2 separate regions of the Homo sapiens genome follow, and region 1 is linked to region 2. A link means that fine-mapping ties the variant in region 2 to the expression of a gene that starts in the linked region. Tissue or cell type: whole blood. Region 2 holds a variant in brackets; the other region holds the start of a gene. All regions are shown on one strand. Distances are from middle to middle. Region 1 holds the start of RALY-AS1 (RALY antisense RNA 1). Region 2 has its middle 21 kb from the start of RALY.

Region 1 (15,181 bases), 20 kb after region 2:
CTCCAGCAGGGTAGCCAGACTTCTTACATAGTTGTTCAGGGCTCCCACAAATGAGCATTCCAAGAGGACAAACCCCAGTATGCAGGCATTTACCAAGCCTCTGCTTGCATCACAACTGCGATATACCATTGGCCAACATTTGTCACATTGAGGGAGAAGGCAGGACTCAACTCCAGAGATGGGGCTGAAACTCTGGACCAGATTGAAGACTAGGTGAACAGGGAAGCAGTGAAAGCACCTCTCCATGAGACATACCCAGCAACACCACGTCAGTTTACCACAGTGATGGCAACACCTAAAAGTTACCACCCCTTTCCATGGCAATGGCCTGGAAGTATCATCCTTTGTCCAGAAAATTCTGAATAACCTGCCCCTTAATTTGCATGTAATTAAAAGTGGGTATAAATATGACGACAGAATTACCCCTGAGCTGCTACTCTGGGCATGCTGCCTAGGGGGTAGTCCTGTTCCACAAGGAGCAGTACCTCTGCTGCTGTTGGACACTGCTGCTCCAATAAAAGTTGCCATCTAGGCTGGGCACAGTGGCTCACACCTGTAATCCCAGCACTTTGGGAGTCTGAGGTGGGTGAATCATGAAGTCAGGAGATCGAGACCATCCTGACCAACGTGGGGAAACCCCATCTCTACTAAAATTCAAAAATTAGCTGGGCATGGTGGTGTCTGCCTGTAATCCCAGCTACTCGGGAGGCTGAGGCAGAATCATTTGAACCAGGGAGTCGGAGGTTGCAGTGAGCAGAGATCGTGCCACTGCACTCCAGCCTGATGACAGAGTAAGACTCCGTCTCAAAAAAAAAAAAAAAATGTTGGCATCTACCACCACCTGTTTGCCCTTGAATTCTTTCCTGGATGAAGTGAAGAACCTTCTCGGGCTAAGCCCCAATTCTGGGGCTTACCTGCCCTGCATCAATATGGCAAAGTCCAGAATCAATGTGGGAGGGGACTACATAAGAGTATGAATGCCAGAAGCATGGTTCACTGGAAGCCATCAAATTAACAGTCTACTGCAATTATTTTCATGGGGTCTAACTAACGGCTAGAGTAGGGAGAGTGGGCCTTCACCTGCAAGGTGAAACTGGATAGTCCCCAGGTCTCCCTACTCAGAATGTTCTCTCCTGATGAACCAGCCCAGATTTGATGTTTACCTTTACTTTGCAGCTTTGGCCCAGCATGACCAGGCTTTCAGAGTTCACATTAGATCACAGCCCACAGTGCCAATCCAAATGACTGGTATGACTGACCATGGAGAAGGACTCCATGGTGGACAGGGGGACAGAATGTCCTGATTGGCCAGGCCTGGGTCAGGTGCCATCACCAGGGCCAGGGGGAATGAAGTCAGCCCCTTCTGAACTAATAGTAATAATATTAATACTAGATGACATTTGGGGGGTGTTTACTATGTGCCAGTCACTCTTTTAAACATTTTATCTGAATTAACTCATATAACCCAAAAACTCCATGAGGTAGATACTATTCTCCACATTTCTTATATGAGGCACAGAGAGGTTAGGAATTTTTCCAGGTTCACATAGCTGGTCAATGGCAGAGCCAATATTCAAACCTAGGCAGTCAGACTTTAGTTTCCATACTCTTTATGGCCTGGACCAAGAATAGGAGTAGAGGCTCACAGAAAAATCAGATGCTGGCCAGGCACAATGGCTCATGCCTGTAATCCAAGCACTTACAGGGAGTCTGGGACGGGCAGATTGCTCGAGCTTAGGAGTTAGGGACCAGCCTGAGGAACATGGCAAAACCCTGTCTCTACAAAAAAATACAAAAATTAGCTGGGCATGGTGGCACGACCTGTGGTCCCAGCTACTCTGGAGGCTGAGGTGGGAGGATCACCTGAGCCTGGGAAGTTGAGGCTGCAGTGAGCCATGATTGCAGCACTGCACTCCATACTGGGTGACAGAGGAAGACCTTGTCTCAAAAAAAAAATTTTTTTAAGTCAGATGCTGTTAAGAATATTGGGAGATGATACAGCATAGACAAAAATGGTATCTATACCTTGCAACTGCCCACTAATAACCATAAAGACATGATGTGCCATGTAAAGCATGATCTAAGGAAAACCTTCATGTTCTTTATGCAGAAACTTGGGCTAGATGTGGTGGCTCATGCCTGTAATCCCAGCACTTTGGGAGGCTGAGGTGGGAAGACCTCTTGAGCCCAGGAGTTCAAGACCAGCCTTTGCAACATAAGGAGACCCTGTCTTTACAAAAACTTTTTTTAAAAATTAGCTGGGCATGGTGGTACATGCCTATAGTCCCAGCCACTCGGAAGGCTGAGGCAGAAGGACTGCTTAGCTCAGGAGTTCAATGCTGCAGTGAGCTATGACCGCACCACAGCACTCCAGCTTGGGTGACAGAGAGAGACTCTGTCTCAGAAAACAAACAAAAACAAACAAAAAAATTGGGTAATTGGGTATCTTCCTCTCTACTCCAGATGGGATTCTTTTAGCCTTAGGTTCCCCTTATTGGATCCAAAGTTGAGAAGCTCTTGGGTCACTTAGTCAAGAATTCCTGAGGTATAGCAAATAAGAACATCTGGGACCACATGTTACCAACATCTGGTCACAAACTCTTAAAATAATATGGAGAAGTAGATTTGGAGAAACAGATGAAGAACACGAGGGGGAATGTGCTGGGTGACACCCACAGAAATGCACCTGGGGAATCATGATTGAAGCAAGGATGATTGAAAAGTCTCTGCAAGTATGTGTGACACTTCTGAGTATTGGGGGTGGGGTGGGGGTGGAAGGCCTCATGTATCTGTTGTTTCCTGGGCACTCAATCCTTTTTGAACAAGATGCTCTAGAGATGGTTATTCTCATTAGAACAAATGTTACTGACCCAATGTCTTCCTCGTTTATATTTCTTCTAATGTGCTTCTGCTTGAGCAAGTGAGCCCTTAATGTCCATTTCAATTAACATCACTGCATCTGATCTCAGTGGTGTCACTCATGGATGCAATGAGGGGCGGAGAAAGGTCACTGGGAAGTGGGGAGAGGTGTCCCCTCTTGTTTGAAGGCTTGAAGTCACTGGTGAGGGAGGTATTGGGAGGGAAGGTGTGGAATGATTTGCTCCCTACTTAATAAAGACCATACTTTAAAGATGTCAGCCTGTCTTTTGTTTGATAAAACACTAATGTGAAGACCTAGTTGCAAGGCAGAAAGCAGGGACAAGGGCTCTGAGGGCTAAGCCAGTGAGGAACGGGAGACACACAAACTTGCATTGACTTATGAGAGCTTCCTCCATAACCTTGAGCTCCCTAGCCGTCAGTCACAGTGGGTGGGAACTGTATGCTCCAAATCTGCTATCCAGTATCCTGGGGATTCCCAGGGATGGCTCAAAGCTGGTGGTCTGACACCAACACTTCTGTGTGTGGCCTGATCTCAGCATGGAAATGGGATGGACCAGAGTTTGGGGTGGGTGTAGCAGAGCAAGCCTCAGGGAGAGGTAGACAGTCACAACCTGCCAACCCTTCCTTGCTCTTGTTTTCCATCCTTCCTTCCCTTCCTTCCTTCCTAACAAGGGAATTTGTTCCCTTTGTGCCCTTCCAGAGGGAATTTGTTCAGGAAAGAGAAAATATGGATTTATGTTCTCCAAGACACAATCCTCAGGGATGATTCTCTCTCCTTTGAGAAGTCAGAGCATTTGTTTTTTCATCATCTTTGCCATCAATAACAATCATTAGAAGAGCTTACTATTTCTTGAGCACCTTCTGTGTATCAGGGGACATTACATATATTATTTCTAGCCTTCACAGCAACCCTCAAGGTAAATGTAATTTATGCCCACTTTACAGAGGAGGAAATTGGGGCTTAGAGTGCTTGAGGAGCTTGTCCAGTAAGTGGATTGAACTGGGCCCGGTTCATTCGATTTCTGGCTCCAATGTCATCAATTACTTGCAATATATACTTGCAAGGGCCTGGCTCCTGGCTAAGACCTGCTAATGGATGCATCTGAAATAAGAAATGTCTTCTATTCAAGTTCCAGACGTCCACATCAACAAGCATCAAACACAGAGTTTAACCTGCATCGTACTGGCAGTCAAGATGCAAGGGCTGTAGTCCTGGTTCTGCAACTCTTTTGATGGGCAGCTTTCAGTGTATATGTGTGAACTCCCCTCTCCAGTAGAACTCCCCTCTCCAGTTGTCATTTCTCCATCTGTAAAATGGGCAAGTTTGACTAAATATCTCCAAGAGTCAGCTCAGTTCAATCCAATCTGACAGCACCCATGGGGCTTTCCTGTGTGACTGTGCCAGAAGGAAATAAAGATGGACAAGGCAGACCTCCATTCTCTAGGTGAGCTAAATGTGTGCTCTAATAGTTATACATAAAGAGCAACAAAGCTTGGAGAGCACGGCATCTCATTTAGACTTGGCCAGTGGCAATGTGTGTGGCACAGGAGATGAGGCAGGCTTCAGGGTGGAGGCGCCATTGGCAGTTGGGCTTGAAAAGGAAATAGAACATGTGGAGGTGGAGACAGGAGGAAGCTTTTCCCAGCCAACACCACATGGAGCAGAAGAACCACCTGGTCATTCTATAAAATTGTGAGAAGTAACAAATCATTGTTGTTTTAAGTCACTACATTTTCGGGATGATTTCTTACGTAGTAATAGATGACAGACCCCAAAGGTGGGTGTGTGATTATAGGCTTTATCCTATAAAGGTCAGAGATTGCTCATTTTTAGACCACAGCCTACAGTAATTGGCCTGCAGACATAATTCATTTGGCTTGCACAGGGTTTTTAAAAATAGTTGAGCCAACATTTAGAAATTGGGAGATTTTATATGAAAATCCAGATTTGGGGGCTCTCTTGAAGAATCCTACATCTCAGCACCTGCATTCTAGGAACAGTATGCAACACACATCCTCCAGTTCATGACAGTGCTCTCCACTCCCTATTGTCTCATGCCTAACCTTCTTTCTAGCCCCTGTAGACACCTGAGGGTTTGCTGTTGTTGTTATTTGTTTTGAGAAGGGTCTCACTCTGTTGCCTAGGCTGGATGCAGTGGTGTGAGCATGTCTCACTGTAGCCTTGGCCTCCTGGGCTCAAGTGATCCTCTGGCCTCAGCCTCCCAAGTAGCTGGAAGTACAGGCACATGCTACCATGCCAGCTAATTAAAATTTTTTTTTTTGTAGAGACAGGGTCTCACTATGTTGCCCAAGCTGGTCTCAAACTCCTGGGTTCAAGCAATCCTCCTGCCTCAGCCTCCCAGAATTCTGGGATTAAAGGAATGAGCCACTGTGCCCGGCATGACATTTGAGTTTTTGATCCATGCTGATGACATGGCAATGGGAGGCTATTGAAGGTTGTTTTTTGTTTTTCTGTTTTTGAGGCGGAGTCTCTCTCTGTGTCTCAGGCTGGAGTGCAGTGGCATGATCTCGGCTCACTGCAACCTCCACCTCCCAGGTTCAAGCGATTACCCCACCTCAGCCTCCTGAGTAGCTGGGATTACAGGTGCCTGCCACCACGCCCGGTTAATTTTTATATTTTTAGTAGAGATGGGGTTTCACCATGTTGCCCAGGCCGGTCTTGAACTCCTGACCTCAAGTAATCCCCCCCACCTCGGTCTCCCAAAGTACTGGGATTACAGGCGTGAGTTACCGCGCCCAGCCCATTGAAGGGTTTTGAGCAGAGAAGGAATGATGAGAGTTGGGCAGTAAGTAATGTATTGGTTGGGGGTAACTCTGGGGCAGGTGTAGTGAAAATCTATTATTCAATCTGCCCCAGAGCATGAACTCCATCTTTTGGGAAATGCATCTTTCTCTGACCATATGGTTCCGATGGGGCTGCCATCTCCCTGTACGTCCCACTTCCTTATTCACAGTATTGGTTAGAGAATGGCACCTGGCTTAAGTTGGGCCAGTCACAGCACCTGGTTTTCCACCCATAGATGATTGGTCTAGGGACGGGGACTTACCTATGTTGGACCAATCAAAGTTTTTCCCTAAAATTTTGTCCTTCAGACCAGAAGCAGAAATCCTCAGTCTCTCTCCGGTGGAACGGGTGAGAGTTGTGAGTGGTGAGCGCTGCTGCAGCCAGGTGCCTAGCCTTGAGGAGAAAAGCTCGCATACAGAGAGAAGAGATAAAGGACTGGGAGGAGAGTCCTGGCAACATTCAAGCCTCTGCGCTCACCACTTCAGTGCATTTTCTGAGCCTGGTTCTCCAGCCTTCCCATCAGTTCTGGGAGCTCCCCATTCCTTCCTGATAAATTCCTTTGCTGCATCTGTTAGTCTGAGTTTATTTATGTTTCGTAATTTGCAACCGAGAACACTGGTGATAACCGGGGGCTTTGAGGCAATTCCAGGAGGGCTACTTCTCACCCCCGTCAGGGAGGAGCCAAGACAGGGTTTATCCTCAAATGCAGATCCCCTGAGGTCAGGAGTTAGAGCCCAGCTTGGCCAACATGATGAAACCCCGTATCCACTGAAAATACAAAAATTAGCCGGGCATGGTGGTACACGCCTGTAATCCCAGCTACTTGGGAGGCTGAGGTACAAGAATCGCTTTGAACCCAGGAGGCAGAGGTTGCAGAGAGCCGAGATCGTGCCACTGCACTCCAGCCTAGGCGACAGAGCTAGACTCCGCCTCAAAAAACACACAAACAATGAACAGACAAATAAATGACAGAACAAGAAGACAAACTAGAGAACATCTTGAGACAAGGTGTTCAGGGAAGAGTTCTTTTGAGAAGGTGATATTAAAGCGAGTTTGGGGAAGAACGTCCCAGGCCTTGCGCTCAGGGTCGTCAACTCTTTGATTTCTCTTCCTTTTGAAGCAGGGCAGGGAGGTCATCAAACAACAGAAGGACAATTATAACTGCTGGTATGGCAAAGCCAGGACTCTGAATTCAAACTCTGCTCCATTCTCAGGAATCCCGTCTGTTAAGCAGGTTCTGGGGAAGCGATGTGAGTCATGAAATCACAGGTCGGAGGAGGCATCGAGAATATGGTCAGTTCTCAACTTTCAGGGAAATCCATAGCTGAGGAATGAAGGACAACGGGCTTCTCGTGCTCTCACTAGGAAGACTGGTTCACCGGAGGCTGGAACACTGAAAGTGAGAAATCCCGACAGGAGAAATGTGTAGGAGAGAGGACTAGCACCTGGATCAAGTTATAAAACATCTCCTGCATCTTTTTCGGAGATCACCCTTAGCGCGGCCTCTCCGCCCAGTCCCAGATTAGGCAGCGAAGAGCGACCCTCACCTTGTCTAGGTGGCACGTTCCTTAAAAGCGAAAGGACCAGGAGTTTCTTCCTGCCTCGTCTCTTCCGGATCCCTCCTGCACCGCCCACAGCCTGCAGATTTGAGCGCCATCTCCAGGCCCCGCCCACCTCAAGCACCACCCCTCAGTCCTTCCTTGGGGCACGCCTCCTTCCGGCACCCGCCCAGAGTAGCCACCCCCGGGGCCCCTCCTCCCCTCCCTGCTTCCGGGCCCGCCTCCTTCAGGCCCGCTTCCATCTTCCTCCCACTCTAAGCTTCTCTTCAGCCCCGCCTCCCTCCACCCGTGGCTCCGCCCTCTGGGCGATTCTCCATTTAGCCCCGCCCACAGCATCTCCTTTCAAGCGCTGTCCTGGTTCCCGGCTCTCCATCTCCTGCACGGCCTTCCCCACTGGTCCGGCGACCCTCTTCCCAGGGCCTCATCACCATCTTAGCTCCGCCCCTACTTCGGCTCCAAACCTGTGCAAGCTGCCCTCTTCCCGCCCCAGCCCCGCCTCCCCAAGCCGCGTCTCAGTCCCTCCTCCCTTTCAGGCCCCACCCTGGCCCCGCCTTCCTCCCGTCCCCGCCGAAGCTCTGGACCTTTCCAAAGCCAGGCTGAGAGGGTGGGGAGAGCCCATGCGCCTGGGAAGCCGGGCTGTTTCTGGGCGGGGCTGCAGACTCCTCGTGCTCGTGTCACCGTGTCCTTCCCAGGAGACAGAGAAGGAGGAGAGCCCGGAACCAGGGCCGGAGCGGCGGGCGGAGCCGAGCTGCGGGGAGCCGCTCCGGGTGCCCCCACCCCCGCGCGCCTCAGTGGTGCCGGCCGAGGGCAGGGCTCGCGGTTGCGGGGCTCGCGCCGCTGTCAGTGCGGCGGGGCGCGCGAGCGGCGCCAGCTCGGGGCAGCGGAACCCAGAGAAGCTGAGGGGGCGGTAGCGGCGGCGACGGCGACGACGACGACTCCCGCGCGTGTGCCCAGCCTCTTCCCGCCGCAGCCGCCCTTTTCCTCCCTCCCTTACGTCCCCGAGTGCGGCAGTACCGCCTCCTTCCCAGCCGCGCGGCTTCCTCCAGACCTCTCGGCGCGGGTGAGTGGGGACTGCGGGCGTCTCCTTAGGGGTGCGGGGAGGGTGTGTGCTTTGTGCCTTTCCGTTCACTCACTTCTTCCGGCAGGCCGCTGCCTATTTTTAGAAACTTATTTCTGCCCTTCGGGGAGTCCCGGGAGCCCGAGTAACTCTAGGCCCCCTCCGCCGCTCCTTTCTCCCACTCGGACCCGCCGCCCCGGGTCCCCGGCCCCAGCCCTCCGCGCCCGGTCCTGCTCCCGGCGTTCCCTGTCTGCTCTCTCCGCGGGCCAAGTCTGGGCCAGTAGTTGGCTGGGTGGGCCCGCGCCCGCTCGGAAGTTGGAGTCTTTTGTGCTCGTGCCCCGCCCCGCCCGGCGAGGGGCGGAGGGAGGGGAACGGAGGCTGCTCCGGGGAGGCCGCAGGCGGGCCCGGCCGCGGCTGCTTCCGGCTCTCCTAACCCGGACTGGGTCTACGGGCTCCCGGAGGCGCGCAGAGCTTGTCCTGCCTCGGCTCCCGCCTCTTCTGGGCTCTTTGCACGCCTTGGGCTCGGAGAGAAACAACAACGGGCCCTCGAACTGGGGCCGTATCCGCGTTTCACTCAGCCTCCTTGGCGGCCGAGTCTTAGTTTGCCTCTCGGTGACATGGGGGGAAAGAAGGAAACTCGCTTTGCGGGGTGTTCGTGGATTCAGGGAGGGAACTAATATGTGAAAGAAGTGTTTAACACCGACAGGGAACATTTAATGAGACTTCACCCAGGAACTTCCCAAGCCTTATTTCATTTAATGTTCACAACGGCCTTCTGGTTTATCCTCATTTACAAAAGCAGAAATTAAGGCGCAGAGGGGTCAAGTAATTTTCTCCAAGTCACAGTAGCCACAGAAGTGCAAAGGAGTGGTGCCAGTACCTATTATTTATTAATATTTCCTGGTGTGAGCATGTATCATCTCTTAGTGCAGAGGGTATTTTTACCTAGCCTTGGGTCACACCATTTAATTAGGGGCATAACTCTGGGTTTTCCCTGACTTCTGGGCCGTTGTCCACTATACTGTGGATGAAATCCCATTCTGGGGTTACCATAGTTCTAAAGGGAAAGGTTTGGATGAATTCCTTGCTAGTGTTGCGGCAGTTAGAAGTTGATGGATGCAGACTCCAGGTCTCAGACACAACTCAAATTCCCTGGGGTTTTGGCTCAAGGAAGCTTTGAGACTGTAAACGGTGGGATCCACCCTTTAGTTTGTGTGTGGTGTGTTCCTCCTCCCAGACCTTGCAGGTTCTCTGTGTTTAGATTTATCGATCCTAGTTTGATGGGGGTTAGGGGGAGTAGCTCAAGTCATCTGCCTTCAAACAAATATTACTCCTATTTTCAGATAAGGCCCAGAGTGGTTAAAGTGAACTAAAATTAACTTTGGCAAATGTTCCAGTTTTTCAATGTGATCCGGTTGGAGGGAGTGTCTAAAAATCAGGCAAGGGAGTTTCTGGGCCAGGTCTTGAGGAGTCTCTTGATGTTCACATTAGTTCTTTGGAGTCTGGTACGTCTGTGGTGCCTGGCCAGGATTCTGGATTTACGAGTCCTATGTGGGAGCTGAAAGGGGTCTTACCATCTGGTCCAACTTTTTCATATCTGCCTTTCCCCGCTTCCCTGTTAACTGAACCTTGGAAAGGGGAAGTAAGTTGTCTGAATTCAGACTGCCTTAGTGTCAGAGTGAGAACTAAAATTTCCAGTCTTCTTCCTCCTAATCCAGTAATATTTTTATTTCTCCCATACCTTGCCACTTCTTAAAAGGGCACGAAACCACTTATTCAGGTCTTAAGGTCAGGAATCCTGAGTAATTGGAAATCCCAAGGAAGTTTTATAGTCCCCACCCCTTTCTGTGCCTTATGGTTAGTATTAAGAGGAGGCCAGGTTTAAGCACAGGTGTACTAGTTCTCGTAAGTCACCACTTCGGTTTTATGTGTTTATGGCTTATATACTCTTCCATAACCATTATCTGATTTAATTTCTAATCCATTTCTGTGAGGTAGTTTGCAGAGCTTGGTTTATGTCTCTTTTTTTACTGTGAGGGAATGGAGACACAGCATAGCACTTGCCTTAGATGACAGAATGAGTAAGTAGTGAGGACAAGACACCTCTCTGGAGCAGAGGATTTGATTTGACATCATAAACTGAGCCACTCATTGTGGCTCTCTGAGCCTCAGTTTCCTTATCTGTAAACTCATAGGGTTGTTGTGGGGATTGTTAAGAAAATGGCTATGAAAGTGCTTTATAGTGGTAGTAATAATAGCTAAATTTATTAAGTACTTAACGTGTACCACCAGTCAATGGACTGAGGACTTTATGGACTATATTACTAATTCTTAGAGCAACCTATGAATTAAGTACTATTATTATCCCTGTTTTATAGAAGAAACAGGCTTAGAGAGGTTACATTACCTGCCTCAGGGTCATGTAACTGGTAAGTGGCCATGGCAGTATTCAGACTGCAGACAGTATAACCTTAAAGCTGGCATGCTTTTTTTAAAAAAAAAATTGTGGTAAAATATATATAACATAAAATTTACCATTTAACCGTTTCAAAGTGTACATTTATGTGACATTAAATACATTCGCATGGTTATGCAACCATCATCACTGTCCATTATCTTCCCCAACTGAAATTCTGTACCCATTAAACTAACTCCCCCTTCCCTCCTCCCTCCAGCCCCTGAAAACTATCGTTCTACTTTCTGTGAATTTGACTACTCTAGGAACCTCATGTAAGTGGAATCATGCAATATTTGTCCTTTTGTGCCTGCAAAGCTGGCACACTTAGTGTCTTCTTTAGTCTCAGAGTGCATTGTAAATGCAAAATTATTAGTCCTCACCTGCAGCAGAGATGTGGCATGCAGCTCCAGGGCAGGAACCCAGGCCTCTCTGAGTAAGACCTACTTTTCTCCCCCTTAGGTTGATGTTCTGTATCACTGAAGCCTGTTTTGAATCTCTGCTGGCCCCCCAGTATCTGCAGAAGAGACCTTATACCCTGTTTTTTTTGGAGACGGAGTCTCACTCCGTCGCCCAGGCTGGATTGCGGTGGCACGATCTTGGCTCCCTGCAACCTCAACCTCCTGGGTTCAAGGGATCTCTTGCCTCAGCCTCCCGAGTAGCTGGGACTACAGGCATGCACCATCACGCCTGGGTAATTTTTGTATTTTTAGTACAGATAGGGTTTCACCACGTTGGCCAGGCTGGCTTCGAACTCCTGAACCTCAGGTGATCCTCCTGTCTTGGCCTTCCAAAGTGCTGGGATTACAGGCATGAGCCACCACGCCAGGCTATTACACCCTTAAAATAGAACCGAGATAACTCCCCACCCTCACCTTGTTTGCACCTGCCCTTCTGACAGTCCAGGGTTTGGGGATATTGGGCTGCAGTTATCAGGAATAACAGTGCAGTGACAGCAGCTTGGATCAAAACTACTCAGAATGATTAAGTAGATCACCTTTATGAAATGTTCCCTCTTTCTTCCCCCTTTTTCCATAGAGGCACACAGGAGGGATTAGCTTTTGGGTTCTTGGAGGATGTTTATGGATACTCACTGCTTGCAGTTGGTTAAGATGGAGTTAGATGCTGCATATAGCCTTTCAAAATGCCCTTTGACCGTTTTCTGTGTTGGTCCATTTAGGGGAGTGGGCTCTTCATGTTTATGAAGATGGTTGGAATATTGTCCTGATAACAACTGGGGGTTGGGAGAGGCAGTGTCTCAGAGATGGTTAATAGGGTAACAAACACATGATCATGTGTCTGGTCATGTCACACTCTCCTTAAAAATCTGATGGCCCCAACATTGCCTGCATATTAAAGTTCAAACAAATATGACCCATGAGGTCAGTGTGTTGAATTTATTGAATAGAATCTTGTAGTTGAGGGACCTTACAGTCATTTAGACCAGCCACCTGGCTGACATTTGAGTTGGTTACTTGTTGAGATTGTCTTTCTTTGGATACCTCATTTTTGGAAAGTTTTTCATTCACTGAAGAATTAATGAGCCTCTGTTAGACCTGGTGCTACGCTTAGGGATTTGGGTTTGTATAGCGTAGTGGGAAAGATAGGCAAGGAAACAGGCAGTGTGAGAAGTGTTGTCACAGGGACAGACACCAGGAGAGCACAGAAAAATGATGCCTAACCCAGCATTGGAAGGTCAGGGAAGGCTTTTTAGGAGGAGAAGTTGGTTAAGCCTAGCCCTCAAGAGAACAGACATAAGCCAGGAAAAGAAGAGATCTGGGGAGTCAGGGAAGAGGCAGAGATAAGACTGTTCTAGGTAGAAGGAACAGTAAGTTCAGAAATGGTGATAATAGGTTAAGACCATCCCGAAAGTACGTACTGTTACTATTCCCATTCTGTAGTTGAAGGAAACGGGCCAAGAGAGCTAAACAAATTTCTCAGGATTCTTGGGTGGAGCATAATGCTTGAGGTGGGTGGATATGGCCAGACAGGAGACTTTCAAGGTAGGCAGAGCAGAGGCCAAGTCAGGAAAGGGCCTTCTTGCCTGTGTTGAGGAGTTTGGACTTCATCCGGAGGTGAGGGGGCCATGATTCAATGTGCATTTTGGAAGGATATCTCTGGCTGCCTGTTCAGGAGCGGACTGGAGAGCTAGAACACTGTGGGCAGAGAGACCAGTTAGGAGGTTGGCAAGAGGTGATGGTGTTTCAAATGAAGGTTGTGGGAGAGCGTGTGCAAGAGTGTGTGCAGAAAAAAGATGGAATTGCTGGGCGTGGTGGCTCACGTTTGTAGTCCTAGCACTTTGGGAGGCTGAGGTGGGTGGATCACCTGAGGTCAGGAGTTTGAGACTAGCCTGGCCAACGTGGTGAAACCCCGTCTCTACTAAAAATAAAAAAAAAATTAGTCGGGTGTGGTGGCAGGCACCTGTAATCCCAGCTATGTGGGAGGCTAAGGCAGGAGAATCACTTGAACCTGGGAGGTGGAGGTTGCAGTGAGCTGAGATCGAACCACTGCACTCCAGCCTGGGTGTGAGACTCCATCTCAAAAAAAAAAAAAAAAAAGGAAAGAAAAAAGGTGGAATTGAGTGATGAGACAAAGATTATTGGTGTGGAGGGTAAGGAAGGAATCGGGATGACATCTGGTTTCTACCTGGTGCAGTTTTGTAAATGGGTGCTGTTTATTGAGGTGAGGACACAGGAGAAGAAGGAGCACGTAAGGGAGGGGGTAGGGTTTCTTATGCAGGGTCTCCTTACATATGCTTTCACTTACCTCTGGTTATGGATTCTAGTTCTTTGTGTCAGGTCTGAAAGGGAGAGAGTGAGAGTATGGCACAACTGGTCATGTTCCTGGCTAAACTGGATGATGCAAACATTAGTTTAGGAAGAGAGGAGATATTCAATCCTAGACATCCGGGTGTGGCACAGCCTGGAAACTGCTTACGTTAAGCCAAGAAAAGTTTACATTTTATCCAGGCTACATCCTTTGGCACTGGTCTTTTCGTGTACTAGTGTATTCCTAAGTCCCTCTCTAAGCCGAAGCCACTTCTCTGCTTACTCTCTGCTAGGCACTGGGAAAACAAAGATAAGTAAAACGTATCCTAAGGAGCTCATGATCCAGAAGGGCAGAAGTCTCAGTAGCTTGGATACAGCGGTGGCCTGGGGAGAGGGTGGATGGGGCAGGGCAGGGTAGGACAGGATGGAGAGGGACCCGGAAGGGTTTCTATTAGGGATAGGAGTCAGGAGACCCCACTGTGTGCTCCAGTCTTTTTCTCGGGTGGCACGTGTCTAGGTTTATTCATCTGAATAATGACTAGATGACCCATAAGGTCCCTTCTAGCAATTACATTTTATGATTCTAGGTGGTGGTTTAGATAATATATCTCTAGGAGAGGTATTTCTTTCTTCTTCTCCCCCTTCTTAGTTTGGCATTGGTGAGGGGATATAGTAGGGGTGGAGATAGCAAGGTTTTCACTTGAGTGTCTTGGTCTTATTCAATTTTGGCTTCATGTCTATATAGCTGGAAGGGAGAAAATGACAGCCGTAATGTTAACCTGCTTGTCCTACAACTTCCCCCTGGGTACTGTAAGGAAATTGTGCTCAGGGTGCAGCTCACAGACCCTTAGGAATAGAGACAGAGTGCAGTGGAATAAATAGGAAGTCTTGTCACTAGCCTGAGCATCGTTTGGTCAGTGTGTGGGCTGGACTAAGGTCCTTTCTTTTTATAGCCCTGTTTCCTCATAAAATCATCTGGGGGGGTCCCTGAAATTCTATAAAGGCCCAAAGAGTGGGGGTGGGGAGGTAGGGACAGAAAAAGGGTTGGAGGTCCCTGTCTCTCTCACTTCTCCCCTCTCTTCGAACGAATAAGTAGAAGCAGGTATCTGGCCAAGTATTAATGTTGGTCATCTTTTGTTTCCACAGCCTTGCCTTATTTCCTCAGTGTTAGTGTCTTCTGTCATTTCATAATGGCTTTCATGGTAATCAATGTCCTGTACCTCCTGGGAGGAAGGAAGGAAAGATGGGATATTGTCCCTGGGCTCTAGTCTCCATCTCCAGAAGAGCCATTTAAGACATCCACTGCCCCCTGTTCTCTATTCTGGGGTTGGGGTAGGGGGTTGTGGCTGAATACTTGGGTTTCTTAGAGGGTACATACTTGAGTTTCCTAGGGAGTGCTCTACTAACTAAAGTGCAAATCTGGCTATCTTCCCAACACACCAATGAGTTTGACTGGGGAAAATAGCAGTCAGTGGGCTTTTGTTGCTTGCCAAACCCATGTTAATTGTAATTATCTAATATTCTGTGGGATCTCTGTCTTCCTGTCTGTGAAACAAGGGAATTGGACTAGATAATCTTGAGTGATATTTCTACCTTTTTACAGTTTTGTGGAAGTGGCTTGAGAATTTATCTCTGGAAGGAGAAAGGGCTTTGCTA
Region 2 (15,181 bases):
AGAACTTTTCTGCACTGACGGGGAGTGTCTGCAGCTTCATTCCTGAAGTCAGCGAGACCACCAGCCGACCGGAAAGAAGAAACAACTCCCGATGTGCCACCTTTATGAACTATAACACTCACTGTGAAGGTCTGCGGCTTCACTCCTAAAGTCAGCGAGATCACAAACCCACGGGAAGGAAGAAACTCTGGACACATCTGAACATCTGAAGGAACAAACTCCAGACATACCGTCTTTAAGAACTGTAACCCTCACCGCGAAGGTCCGCGGCTTCATTCTTAAAGTCAGCGAGACCAAGAACCCGCTGGAGGGAATAAATTCCGGACACACTAACACCAAGCATTTATTTATTTATAAGTTTTTGCCATCGTAATTTTGACCATAAATTAATTCAACCATCTCTCTTATTAATAGAGGAGATGTAAAAATTGTAAATTGATCTTCTCTTAGATTATGTTCAATGAATATTGTAAGTGTTCTCATGTATTGTTAATGAACAGAATAAAATACAGCATTACCATTAAAAAAAAAATAAGTCTAGGCAAGAACCATTTCAAGCCATGCTGGCAACAGAGTCACCAGACTGCAGTTAAGGTAGAGACACGATGTTCTTTGTAGTTCTTTGTAGAGAGAAGGACTAAGATCTGGGTCATGGAGAGATGATCACTCAACAGGGAATGCGGGAAGCTAGAGTAAAATTTGGCTGGCAGACCAAGTCGTGAGAGGAAAAAGAGACCAAATGAGGCTTTGAAAGATAAATAAACAGGCCGGGCGTGGTGGCTCACACCTGTAATCCCAGCGTTTTGGGAGGCCGAGGTGGGCAGATCGCCTGAGGTCAGGAGTTCGAGACCAGCTTGGCCAACAGGGTGAAACCCCGCCTCTACTAAAAATACAAAAAAATTAGCCAGGTGTGGTGGCAGGCGCCTGTAATCCCAGCTACTCAGGAGGCTGAGGCAGGAGAATCACTTGAACCTGGGAGTCGGAGGTTGCAATGAGCCGAGATCGCACCATTGCACTCCAGCCTGAGCAATGAGTGAGACTCTGTCTCGAAAGAGAGAGAGAGAGAAAGAAAGAAACAACCCACCCCACGAGGGCAGCTCTTGATATCTGGGAAGACAGTTCATGCCTTACAGAGGCAAGTTGCTTGTTTGGCAAAATTCCAGGAGAGCCGTCAAATCAGAATTTGGGGACCTGGATGGAGAATTGATTTCACCTGCAACAAAGGCGACTCCCTGTGACCACATAGAAAAGACTCTGCTTTTTGGAAACCAAAGGCTGTGACCTTCACATGCAGGCTTATAGATAGGAACAAATTAACAGGTCAGGCCAAAAAGGAGGAGATGTCAGCAGTGGCCAGTTGGAAAGTTCTGGGAGAACCACAAAATGCCAGAGTCTCTCAATTAAAGTGGAAAAACCGGCTTAGAGTGATTCAATGGTAAGATCAGGATCATGCCATGGGTTGTTAGCTATTCTGTTTAGCTCTCCAGATCTACCCTTCGCCCTCTCCACCAGTGGTGCTGTGTCCCAGAGATTCACTTTAATGGAATATGTCGAAAGGATTCTTTACTCCCTGGCTTTCTATTGGGTTTGCTCAATGGGAGACACGTGCAGGATACTAGAGGATGGAAGAAGAGAGAAATGAGGGTATTTATTTACCCAGCTCCCCCGCCACTGGGGCCAAGGACTGGAACTATCATGGAAAACCGTTTTCTCAACTTCAACTCTTTCCACATTCACGGAAGCACTCCTTCTCCCTGCCTCTTTAGGCCTGGACCCATAATGTACCCCCCTCAACTGTTGCAGTCTCTGGGGTGCTTCCCCCATTCCCGTTGGCTTCCCTTAACGATTGTTACAACTTTATAAATACTTTCCTGGCCAGGTGGGGTGGCTCACACCTGTAATCCCAGAACTTTGGGAGGGTGAAGCAGGAGGATCGCTTGAGTCTGGGAGGTCAAGGCTGCAGTGAGCTGTGATCACACCACTGCACTCCAGCCTGGAAAACAGACTGAGACCTTGTCTCAAAAAAATAAATAAATATTTTCCTTGATCACTGCACTTGAGTGCTATCTCTTTTTTGATGCAATTCTAAATGCTAATCACTTGAGCTAGCTTATTGAAAAGGGGACACTGTGAATTTTTATGGATAGTTGTTCCTTTTGGCTGTCCAGCCTCAGAAACACATACTCATGTCTGAAGAATTTCCCATCATATGAGTCTTGGTGGGAAGTAGAGCTCACTTCCCCACATAGAATGTGGCAGTGCTAGCTATTTGCTTTTCAGCCTCCCTTGCAGCTAAGGTTTGGGCAAGTGACCTAGGCTCAGCCAGTCAGAAGCATAAACCAAACTTTGAATGAGGAGTCGGTAATATAAAGACATAAGGACAGTGCTGGGCATAGTGGCTCATGCCTGTAATCCTAGCACTTTGGGAGGCTGAGGCAGGTGGATTTCTTGAGGCCAGGAGTTTGAGACCAGCCTGGCCAACATAGTGAAACCCCATCTCTACTAAAAAATTTAAAAAAACTAGCTAGGTGTGGTGGTGCGCACCTATAGTCCCAGCTACTTGGGAGGCTGAGGCAGGAGAATCACCTGAACCTGGGAGATGGAGGTTGCAGTGAGCCAAGATCATGCTACTGCACTCCAGCCTGGGCAACAGAGTGAGACTCTATTTTTTTATTTTTTATTTTTTAAATTTTATTTATTTATTTATTTATTTTTGAGATGGAGTGTTGCTCTGTCACCCAGGCTGGAGTGTAGTGGCACAATCTTGGCTCACTGCAACCTCTGCCTCCTGGGTTCAAGCGATTCTCCTGCCTCAGCCTCCTGAGTAGCTGGGATTATAGGTGCACACCACCATGGCTGGGTACTTTTTGTATTTTTAGTAGAGGCGAGGTTTCTCCATGTTGGCCAGGCTGGTCTTGAACTCCTGACTTCAAGTGATCCGGCCACCTCAGCCTCCCGAAGTGCTGGGATTACAGGCGTGAGCCACTGTGCCCGGCCGAGACTCTGTCTCTAAACAAAAGAAAACACAACACAATACAACAACAACAACAACAACCCAACCCAAACCAAACCAATAAAACAAAAACTTCCACTTAAATCTTAAAAAAAAAAAAAAAGAAAGACACAGGGACAGTGGAGAGGTAGTCTGGTGGTGGTGGCCATAGAAGCAGCAATATCCTGTCTCTGGGGCAGCCTGGGCAGTAGGGCCAGTGACTGTTCCTAGCATGCAGATGTGGAGCTTTAGCAGAGTCAGAGAGGCAAGTGGAAGGGTCTGGTACTCTGCACTGGAGGCAGCAGGGTCCTCACAGGCCCTGTGTTTCTGCCATTGCGGTGTCCAGGTCTGGTTCTTCAGCCTTCCCAGCAATGCCAAAAGCTCTCTGGTATCTTTTCTACTGATTCCTCTCCTGCTTAAATCTACCACAGTCAGTTTCTGTTGCTTGCATTATGAATCCCAACTTGTGGTTTGCGTGCAACCCAAATGTGGGCTACAGCTAGGCTTCACAGGGAAATAGAAAACAGGGGCCCAGGCAGCTACTCCCTCTGCCTCCCACTTTGGTGCCTCAATTTCTCTCTCTCTATCTGTCTCTTTCTCTGTCTCTCTCAATACAACTGCCACATACTTCTTTCCAGCTGTGGTTTTGTCTTAATTCATGGAAAGACATTATAGCTTACTGTTTAGGAAGCACCCACTTTGAGGTCAGAATGCCTGGATTCAAATCTCAGATGTACAGTTTACCATCCACAAGGTTTTGGTCAAGTTACTGATCCTCTTTGGGCTCTGTTTCCTCATCTGTACAATGAGGACAACAGTTTTCCTGTTTTGAGGATGAAATCACACAACGTGTGTAAAGCCCTCACCAAGCTATTAGGCCACAGGAGCCATCAGTAATTGTTGCTATTGTTATCTTCATTATCAGCATTATTATCAGCACGGTTTGGGGACTTATAGAGACTACTTAAAGCAGGCATCTTAAACTTCAAATGCCTACAGGAGCCAACAGGGATGATGAAAAGGAGCCATGTATAGAACACAGGCACACACATTTTCCATAGTCCCAAGGGAAGCTCTCCCAAGGGACTGTAAAAATTGTGCGAGTGTGTGCCTGTCTAGAGGGGGCAGCCATTTCCCAGCCACAGCCATTTATTGCCATGTGGAATGTGAGCCCGGTGATGCCAGATTTTCCACTATTTCAAGAGAGGTCAGATATCCAGCTATTTGGGGTAAGCTTGATGTTTTTCAAAAATCTAAAAAAGCACTATCCTGGCCAAAGGAAACCTTCCTGGGGCCACAGCAGGCTGCAAACGCTAATTTCTATGTTCTAATGCAAATTTCTGGATTGAGTTGAAATTGTCAGGGAGGGAAAGTGGTTAGGCCAGGTTAATTTCATTGGCTCAATCAGGTATGGCCATGGCCCACCACTCACCCAGTGGGGAATGTGGTGGACACTCTGACTGTGGGGTGTGGGCAGGAATGTAGTCATAGGCATACTTTAGAGAAGGAGGCAAGGACCAAAGGGGTGCCCCAAGAGTTGCTTTCCTATGGATGCCAGCACATTAAAAACAAACGCATCAGGAATGCAATAAGTCCCGATAAGTGCAAGGTTAAGAGTGAGGCTTGTTTATCTTGTTATTTATTTAAATAACAGTGTGTCTGGCGGTAGGGCATAACAGGACTAGCACAAAGGCTCAGATATATCCATGTGATTCCAGATTATTTCCACCCTTTCACACCTCCATCCTAGCATGTAGGCCTTTGTCCTCATACTTTTCACCTCATGGTTGCAAGATGGCTGCAATTGTGACCATCACAACTATGTTCCAGGCAGAGGGAGAGGAAATGAGAAGGAGTAACTAATGGCCCTTATGTCAGGACTTTGCAGAAATCCCCAGCATATATATATTTTTTCATCTTATTGGCCACAGCTAGTTCCCATACCCATACCTAGTGACAAAAGAAATTATGGAGGTGAGTATTTTTAGCTTGGTACATTGCAGCCCCAAAGAACATCAAGGTTTTTAAAAACCCTATTTTGGAAACAAGGAGAGAATAACCTGGAGTAGGAAATCAGCAGCCTCTGCCACCTTCTCTGAATATGCACCATGTGCCAGACCCCAGCTAAGTACTGGGATATCAGGCTAACAGTCCCAGTCTGCACAGCAGAAAGATACAGAAGTGGGCCTGGTGCAGTGGCTCACGCCTGTAATCCCAGCACTTTGGGAGGCCAAAGCAGGCAGATCACCTGAGGCCAAGAGTTTGAGACCAGCCTGTCCAACATGGCGAAACCCTGTCTTTACTAAAAATACAAAAAATTAGCCAGGCATGGTGGTATGCATCTGTAGTCCCAGCTACTTGGGAGGCTGAGGCAGGCGAATCACTTGAACCCAGGAGGCAGAGGCTATGGTGAGCCGAGATCGCACCATTGCACTCCAGCCTGGGCAACATGAGCAGAACTCTGTCTCAAAAAAAAAAAAAAAAAAAAAAAAGAGAGATACAGAAGTTGTTGTGGAACCCAACACAGCTGGGCCGGGTTCCAAAGTGAGAAAATCAGCGCTTTGGCTCCTTACAGATCTTCTAGGCCTCCCATCCTTCCTGCCCCTTCCCTGCCCCTCCTGCTGTCAGCGCAGTCCCACAAAGGGCAGAGTAGGGTGGAAACAATGTGTGATTAACACCAGTAGCAGTTTCAGGAGGCATCCAAGAGATGTTCCAGAGAGAAATATGTAACTGGCACATCTGGTTTATAATGTGTATTAATTCCTGACATGTAGTTTGAGTAATATATGTAAAGCAAAAAGTCCAAGTGTTGATTTAGGGGCCTTATTATTACTCTGTCAGCAGAATTCATGTTCTATTTGTGCAGTGCTCTGGGCCCAGCACCTCACCTAGGGCAGCAGGAAGGGGAAGGCTTTCTCATGGGTGCCAGTGGATGGTGGAGGCCCCTGCTGATGGTGATAGGGATGTGGATGAGTACTTGGAGCCCCTGGTAGGGTTGGCAGAAGCTCATCTGGCAAAGAAGATCGTGGAGCTAGACCAAGTGCCAGCTGAGGCTAGAAGCAGAGGCATCCTACCCCTCAGAGGCAGAAGTAGCTTAAAGTCTAGAAAACTGTGGGCTGTGGAGTTCAAAGCCAGCTCTGCCACTTCATTGCCATGTGACTTTGAGTAAGTTATTCCAGCTCTCTGAGCCTCAATTTCTGCTCCCATAAATGAGAACCATAATAACGCCTACCTAACAGGGCTGCTGTGAGGTTTAAATAAAAACAACAGGTGCTGAGAATTTACTATGGGTCAGCGTAGTGTTGCAAGTGTTTGACATGTATTATCTCATTGAATCCTCACAGTAATCTCATGTAGATACTATTATGATGCCCAATTTACAGTTGAAGAAATGCGGCACAGAGAGGTGAAGTAACTTGCTCAGGGTCACACAGCTAGTGACTGGCAGAGCTGGGGTTCATACCTAGACAATCTAGCCCCAGAGAACACTCACTGAGATGTTTCAACAGACAGCTATATTTTATAGTAAGCACACAGTAAAGGGTAATTCTCTAGGTCAGTGATGTCCAATGGACCTTTCTGTGATGAAAATGTTTTGTAATTCTGTGCTGTCCAATACACGAGCCACTAGCCACAGATGACTATTTAACATTTGAAATATGGCTAGCTTGACTAAGGATGTGAATTTTTAATTTAATTTAATGTTAATTAACTTAAATTTAAATAGCCAGGCTGGGCACAGAGGCTTACGCCTGTAATCCCAGCACTTTGGGATGCCAAGGCAGGTGGATCACTTGAGTCCAGGAGTTCGAGAGCAGCCTGGGCAATATGGTAAAACCCTGTCTCTACTGAAAATACAAAAATTAGCTGGGCATGTTGGCACACGCCTGTAATCCCAGCTACTTGAGAGGCTGAGGCACGAGAATCACTTGAGCCTGCGAGGCGGAGGTTGCAGTGAGCTGAGATGGTGCCACTGCATTCCAGCCTGGGTGATGGAGTGAGACCCTGTCTCAAAAAAAAAAAAAAAAGAAGAAGAAGAAGAAATAATTTTGAATATTGAACCAGCCTTGCATACCTGAACAAAATCTCACTTAGTCATGGT[G/A]TATAATTCTTTTTATCTATCGCTGGATTTGATTAGCTAATATTTTGTTGAGGACTTTTACATCCAAGTTCATGAGAGCTGTTGGTTTGTAGTGTGCCTTCTTCTTTCCACCCTTGAGAATCTTCCTAGGTTTGCTGTGTTGTGTCCAGGGATTTTTAGTTTTTAGGGAGAGGACCTGGGAGAAATGGAGCTATTCCATGTTGGTGGAACTGGAAATCCCACACATTCTTTTTTTACATATATGTACTATTATACAGATGTGCTGCAATGGATTAAACCAATTTCCTGGTTAACACTTAGATTCTTTCTAATTATTTGTCGTTGTGAACAATGCCACAATGAATAAGTTTATGCATTTGTCATTTCATACTTAAAGGTAAAGGTGCTATTGTAAATTCTCAGAAATGGAATTGTTGGGACAAAGAGCACATGTATTTTTAATTTTGATGTTTCCAAATTATCTTCTATAGGTATTGCACCAACTTATATTCCTTATTCTCCTGAGACTGCCATGCCCCCTCCACTGACTCTCTGCCGACAGATAACATGTTAGGGTCTTGCTAATCTGATAGTTTAAAAAAAGTGAAATTTATCTGAGTTTTGAGTCATAATTAGGTAGGCCTTTTCCATGCCCTCAAAATAAAGGAATTTTCCTATGTTTTCTTTTAGTGTCTTTACTTTTTTTTTTTTTTTTTTTTAGACAGAGTCTTGCTCTGTTGCCAAGGCTGGAATGCAGTGGCGTGATCTCGGCTCACTGCAACCTCCAGCTCCCGAGTTCAAGCGATTCTCCTGCCTCAGCCTCCCGAGTAGCTGGGGCTACAGGCGCGTGCCACCACGCCTGGCTAATTTTTATATTTTTGGTAGAGACGGGGTTTCACCATGTTGACCAGGCTGGTCTCGAACTCCTGACCTCAGGTGATCCGTCCGCCTCGGCCTCCCGAGGTGCGGGGATTACAGATGTGAGCCACTGTGCCCGGCCAACATCTTTACTTTTTTATTTGAATCTTTGATCCTTGTAGAAATTATCCTGAGCTGTATGTGGTGGCATGTACCTGTAGTTTCAGCTACTAAGGAGGCTGAGTCGAGAGAATTGCTTAAACCCAGGAGTTGGAATCTAGCCAGGCAGCATCACCAGAGTCCTGTCTATCTTTTAAAAATTCCCCTATCTTATCACCAGGAATTAGAGACCAAAAAAGAAAAAAAATTACCTGGTGAAGAGAGAGAGGAATAGATCTAACTTGTTGCTGTTGTTGCTTTCTATCATATGGGTACCCAGTTTTCCCGTCAACTCTCTTGAAACAGTCTATCTTATCTCCTCTGGTGTAAGATGCGACTATTATCATATACTTAATTCCTGTGTGTATTTTGGATGTATTCTAGGCTTTCTAGTCTATCCGGCTAGTTGTCTATCTATTCATACAACAACACTATACTGCTTTAATTATTATTTATAAAGATTGTATCTTTGATAGCGGTAGTCCTCTCTCATTCTTTTTCTTTTCTTATTTATTTATTTGTTTTATTGTTTCTTTTCTTTTTTTTTTTTTTTTTTTGAGACAGAGTTTCACTCTTGTTGCCCAGGCTGGAGTGCAATGGCATGATCTTGGCTCACCGCAACCTCCGAATCCCGGGTTCAAGCGATTCTCCTGCCTCAGCCTCCCGAGTAGCTGGGATTACAGGCATGAGCCACCACGCCCAGCTAATTTTGTATTTTTAGTAGAGACGGGGTTCCTCTATGTTGGTCAAGCTGGTCTCGAACTCCCGACCTCAGGTGACCCGCCCACCTCGGCCTCCCAAAGTACTGGGATTACAGGCGTGAGCCACTGCGCCTGGCCTTCTTTTTTCACTTTTTTGTAGAGATGAGAGTCTTGCTTTCTTGCCCAGGCTGCTCTTGAACTGGCCTCAAGGGATCCTCCTACTTCAGCCTCCCAATGTGCTAAGATTACAGCTGTGAGCCACCACACCCAGCCTTCTTATTTACATTTTTAAAGTTAACTGTAAAACATCCTCAAGCAGGTCCTTCAGGAGGTATTCCTGAAGAAGGCATTGTTATCATAGGAGTTGACAGCTCCATGTATGTATTGCCGCCGAAGACCTTCCAGTGGCATGAGATGTGGGTGGACCTGGAATATGATGATATTGATGATCCTGATCCTGTGTGGGCCTAGGCCAATGTGTGTGTTTGTGTCCTAGTTTTTAATTTAAAAGTTTAAAAAATAAAAACAAAAACCTTCAGAATCAAAAAAGCTTATAGAATAAGCATATAAAGAAGGAAAATAGTTTTGTGGAGCTGTACAATTTGTTTGTGTTTTAAGCTATGTATTACAAAACAGTCAATAGGTTTTTAAAATTTTTTAAGTTTATAAAGTAAAAAAGTTACAGTGAACTAAATTTATTTTTTAAGAAAAAAGATACTTTTCATACATTTAGTGCAGCCTTAGTGTCCAGTGTTTATGAAGTCGACAGTAGTGTACAGTAATGTCCTAGGCCTTCACATTCAGTCACCACTCACCCACTGATGCACTTAGAGCAACTTCAGTCTTGCAAGCTCCATTCATGGTAAATGCCCTATAGAGGTGTACAATTGTATCTTTTATACCATATTTTTACTGTACCTTTTCTATGCTTAGATATGTTTATTTATTATTTATTTATCTGGGAGACAGGGTCTTGCTCTGTCGCCCAGGCTGGAGTGCAGTGGCGCAATCTCGGCTCACTGCAACCTCCGCTTCCTGGGTTCAAGTGATTCTCTTGCCTCAGCCTTCCGAGTAGCTGGGATTACAGGTGCGTGCCACCACACCTGACTAATTTTTGTATTTTTAGTAGAGATGGTGTTTCGCCATGTTGGCCAGGCTGGTCTTGAACTCCTGACTCAGGCGATCCACCTGCCTCAGGCTCCTAAAGTGCTGGGATTACAGGCGTGAGACACTGTGCCCAGCCAACTTAGATATGTTTAATTACACACACACTTCCCATTGTGTTATAATTGCCCATAGTATTCAGTATGGTAACATGCTGTATAGGCTTGTAGCCTAGAAGCAATAGGCTATACCATATATATGTCTATGGTATAGCAATAGGGTGTGTAGTGGGTTATACCATCTAGGTTTGCATAAGTGCACTCTATGATGTTCTTTGCACAAGGATGAAATAACCTAATGAAGCATTTCTCAATATTTATCCTCACGGTTAAGTGATGTATGACTATTTATATATATATATATATATATATATATGTGTGTGTGTGTGTGTGTGTATATATGTGTATATATATACACGTATATATATATATATATATATATATGTAGAGAGAGAGAGAGGGAGGGAGGGAGAGAGAGAGAGCACATAAGGACTGTGTATAATTATATATATTTTTTCCTTATGCCATATATATTAAAAAAGAAATATATATATATATATATTTTATTACTGAGTCATCTTATCCAAGAACATGACACGTTTTCCTATTGTTCAAATCTTTCATGTCCTTTGGTAATATTTTAAACTTTTCTTCATATAAATCTCGCACCTTTATTTCCAGGTATTTTGTAAAGAAGTGTTTAAATTTCTTCACAAATTGAATCTCTGCCTCTTTTTTGTTGCTATTGCAAATGGGATATCTTCTTCCTTTGTGTCTTCTGATTGACTATTGTTTGCATACATGAAAGCAGTTGATGTTTATTAATTCTTTACCATGTTATTCCGTGGAATTCATTTATTGTTGTCAGCAGTCTCGCAATTGATTCTCTTGGTGTTTTCAGTTACATAATCTTTTCCCCCAAATACTGATAGATTTATTTCCTCTTTTCCACATCAATGCCTATAAGATGACCTAATAAGAAGAGACCTCAGTTCCCTACCCTAATAGTCTATCTGGAAAAAAGATGTCTCAACAAATTAACCATAATAAAGATACAAAGGGCAGAGTCAAGACAAGAAGCAAAGGTATCTGGAATCCCAGTCTAAGTTCATTTGCAGTGTTCTATGCAGCCTACGAGGTGAGGGCCTGCCTGCCTCACCCTTCATTACTGTTGCTTCTCAAATAGCCAGCTTAGAGCTGCTTCTCAAAACCCAACCATAATTTTTCCAGACTGGGCTGAACCAATGAAACAAAATATCTAACTAACAGGGGAGGGGAGAAGAGGAAGGGTGGAAATCATGCTGGCTTTCTTGGGTTTGCACTATGGCTTCTGGCTAAAATCTTCACACCAGAGCTTGCCTAACCTTTCCATGGTCTCAGGAATGGGAGAATCTACCAGAAAGACCCAGAACCTTTGTGCAACAGATCTATGTCCAAGATATATCACTAAATAGCACATTCTTGTTACAAAACAATGTACCAAATAGGTTTATAATAATACTTTTCAAAAAAAGTATTTTTATTTTGAATAAAAATACTTTATTTTAAATAACATTTTATTTTAAAATATTTAAATACTTTATTTTTATTTCAAAATAAAATACATTTTTTTGAAAAGTATTGCTATATGCTGGTACACACATAGAAAAAGAGATCTAGAGGAAAATTAGTTAAGATGATGTCAAAAGCAGTTATGAGCCAGGTGCAGTGGCTCACACCTGTAATCCCAGCATTTTGGGAGGCCAAAGTGGGAGGACTGCTTGAGTTCAGTAGTTTGAGACTAGCCTGGGCAATGTAGAAAGACTTTATCTCTACAAAAAAATTAAAAAAAATAACTGGGCATGGTGGTGTGTGCCTGTAATCTCAGCTACTTGGGAGGCTGATGAGGGAGAATTGCTTGAATCCAGGCAGGTGAGGCTGCAGTAAGCCCTGATCATACCACTGCACTCTAGCCTAGGTGACAGAGCAAGATCCTGTCTCAAAAGAGAAAAAAAGAAAGAAAGCAGTTATGTCTAGAGATTGTGGCTGTGAAAGATGTCTTAGTCTGTTTTCTGCTACTATAACAGAACACCACAGGCTAGGTAATCTATAAAGAACAGAAGTTTATTTGGCTCATCGTTCTGGAGGCTGGGAAGTCCAAGAACATTGCATTAGCATCTGGTGAGGGTCTTCCCATGGTGGAAGGGCAGAAGGTGGAAGCTAGTGCACAAGACAGAGAGAGGATATCGGGCTAAACTCTTTCTTTTATCAGGAGCCCACTCCCATGAAAATTAACCCACTCCCTCAAGCCCTCATGACCTAGTCACCTCTTAAAGGCCCCACTACCCAATACCATCACATTGGTAAATAAATTTCAACATGAGTTTTGGAAGGGACATTCAAACCATAGCAAGGAATATTTATTTTCCATGTTATCTGTGTCTGTAACATTAGTGTTTTTAAGTAACAACCAGGTATTGCTTTTGTCATTAAAAAAAGAAAGATAGCTCTGACACATACTAAAATGTTTATGAATGAAAAAATGTGATTTCTGAGATTTGCTTCAAAATAATGTGGGAATAAAGAAATGAGTGTAGGTAGAGACTAGCCATAAATTGATAAACACTGAAGTTGGATGATGGGCAAATGGGAATTTGATATATTATTTCCTCTGCTTTTGTATATACTTGAAATTTTCCATAATAAAAATATTTTAAAAGGAAGTAATTTTATAGACACAGATATGAAGAGAGAGCCACACTGTAGTTTTTAAAAGAAACAGCATTGTATGTATGATATTGCATCTGTGTGCAATGATACTTGTGTCTCTCTCTATATTGGTATACATGTAAAAAAAAAAGACTTAGTTCAAGTAATAATAACAAGCAAGTTTACTGAACACTTGTGAGGGTATCAGGCAGCATCTTAAGTATAGAAATCTCTATTTTCTTTTTTTTCAAAATGATATATTTAAGGCTGAGCGCAGTGATGCGCACCTGTAATCCCAGCACTTTGGGAGGCCGAGGAGGGCAGATCACCTGAGGCCAGGAGTTCGAGACCAGCCTGGCCAACATGGTGAAACCCCGTCTCTACTAAAAATACAAAAATTGTAATCTCAGCTACTCAGGAGGCGGAGGCAACAAAAAGATATATTTAAAGCCACTACCTGCAGGTCTTTTGGAAATTTAAGTTTTTGCTAGCCCAGTAAATTTTTTGACATTCTTCCCATAAAAGGGTGGTGTCATGTGCCTTCCTTTTGAACCTGGATGGGCTTCTGTTTTGACCAACAGAGTACAACAGAAATCCCACCTACCTAATGTTCACACCCTGGCTCTACCACTTGCTAATTGTGACCTGTGGCACAATATGACCTTTACGGCTCTATACCTCCTTTTCCACCTCTGTATAATGAGGATAATCATAAATACCTCATAGGATCATTGTGAAGATTAGATGAGTTGTATGTGAAATTCACAGAACAATTTCTGGGCAGGTAGTAATTACTAAATAAATCTTTTCTTCATTAACAACAACAACAACAACAACAAGAAAGAGTATAGCAGAAATGATGCAGTGTGATTTCAGAGGCTGAGTCGTAAAATACCATGCAGCTGCTGCCTTGTTCACTGAAATACTTACTCACAGGTTCCTGAGCCACTATGTAAGGAGTTTAACTACCCTGTGGCTGTCATGCTAGGAGGAAGCCCAAGCCACACGGAGAAGCTATGTGTAGGTATTGTGATCTACAGTCCCCACTGTGCCCAACCTTTGAGTCATCCCAGCCCAGGCACCAGACAGGTGAGCACAGAAGTCTTCAGATGATTCTAGTCCTCAACCCTGGGAGTCTTCCTCAATAAGGCCCTAAACATCATGGAGCAGAAATAAATTATCCCTATGGTGCCCTGTGTGAATTCCTGATCCTCATAATCTGTGACCAGAATACAGTTGTTTTTGTTTTATATCACTAAGTCAGATGGTTTGTTATACACAATAGATAACTGGAACATACGGACTTTCAATTGTATGAGATAATTACATTTGGTTCTTATGGTTGAAATCACTGTAAAGAGCATTTTTGTCCTTACTCGCAGTTAATCACAGTCTTACACTGTAGTCTTGTTTACTTATATTTTTAAGTTAATCTATTCTTTTGGTTTAAATATGTCTTTAAGGAGAAAAAAGAGTATTTTTGTAACGCATAGTAGAAACAATTGCTATGAAAATTTTAAATCATGCTTTCCCATATATCATTTTAAATCATCTTGTGGCTCACCAGGGACATATCCCACCTTCTAGGAATTACTGCATTAAGCTTTCTTCTGATCACAAAGGTTTCTCCTAACTTTTACATTTGAGAATGTATGAGGTTCCCTTCCCCAGGTTGTCATTGCATGTTGCCCCAGGACACCCTCTCTCTGAAGGAGTTCGCAGACAGAGTTCCCGTGCAGTGCATGAGACAGTTAACATTCATGGGAGGTGACCCACATCAGGAACTGTGAAGGGTCTGAGATTTTACCCTACTTACAAACTCATCAGCTAGATTATTTCCTGAATGCTGGCAGAAGACATAGACTCCTGGGTCAGAGATAAGAAACTGTATTACTTACAGAGAAAGTAGATGCTGACTTCAGGCTTACCCTGATTCCCCAAACCTCTGAAGTCCTGAGGATGTGATGCAGGTGGGCCTGCTCACACAGAGTTGTGTCACAGGAGAGGAATACTGAGCTAAGAGAAACTATTGCTTTTACAGTGAGCAGTCACAAACCTTCCCTTTGAAGACATGACTTCATCCCTCAAGGTTGTTTTCTGCAAACACAACCCTGAGAAATGGCCTGAGTAAAGGGCAATCAGGGTCTTGCCTTCCTGGTGCACCAGCAAGAACATGCAGGGATGCTCAGAGCTCATGGATATCCCGATCACAAGCTGCATGGCCTAGGCCAGATAGGCTAGGGAGTGCTGTGAGGTCCCAGAGCTAAAACTCCACCACTCCCTTCCCAACTCCTGAAAGCATAGCATAATGTCAGCAAAGCAGAAGGAGGGATGTTAAGGGGTTCACCTTGACTCCACTTTAATCAGTAATAATAAAAGGCGAATGATTTGCTCACTTCAGCTTTACTTTTATTAGTACAATAATCCAAACGATGCTGAGCTTCTTCAGTTTGCACATTCAAGGGAAATCACACTAACAGCTTCTGTCAATTAGTTACTGCTCTAGCAATGCCACATAACAATCAACCTCAAACTCTCA

What was found. PIP is the estimated chance that this variant, and not a neighbour inherited with it, causes the effect.
Region 1: RALY-AS1 starts here. The variant in region 2 is fine-mapped to the expression of RALY-AS1 in whole blood (TOPMed, PIP 0.90).

Annotation. Positions count from the first base shown.
Region 1 is chr20:33,985,827-34,001,007 of GRCh38, forward strand. RALY-AS1 (RALY antisense RNA 1) reads right to left here and starts at 8,541. Exons shown (of 2, transcript NR_109886.1): 1 at 8,379-8,541; 2 at 6,662-7,079. It overlaps RALY (RALY heterogeneous nuclear ribonucleoprotein), which reads left to right and starts at 8,085. Exons shown (of 10, transcript NM_016732.3): 1 at 8,085-8,305. RefSeq lists enhancers at 6,986-7,065, 7,002-7,528, 12,965-13,465 and silencers at 7,306-7,555, 7,726-7,835, 8,016-8,145, 8,206-8,255, 8,476-8,805.
Region 2 is chr20:33,965,642-33,980,822 of GRCh38, forward strand. No RefSeq gene overlaps it. Among named protein-coding and RNA genes, the nearest start is that of RALY, 21 kb to the right of the region's middle. The variant G/A (reference allele first, on the strand shown) is at 7,095.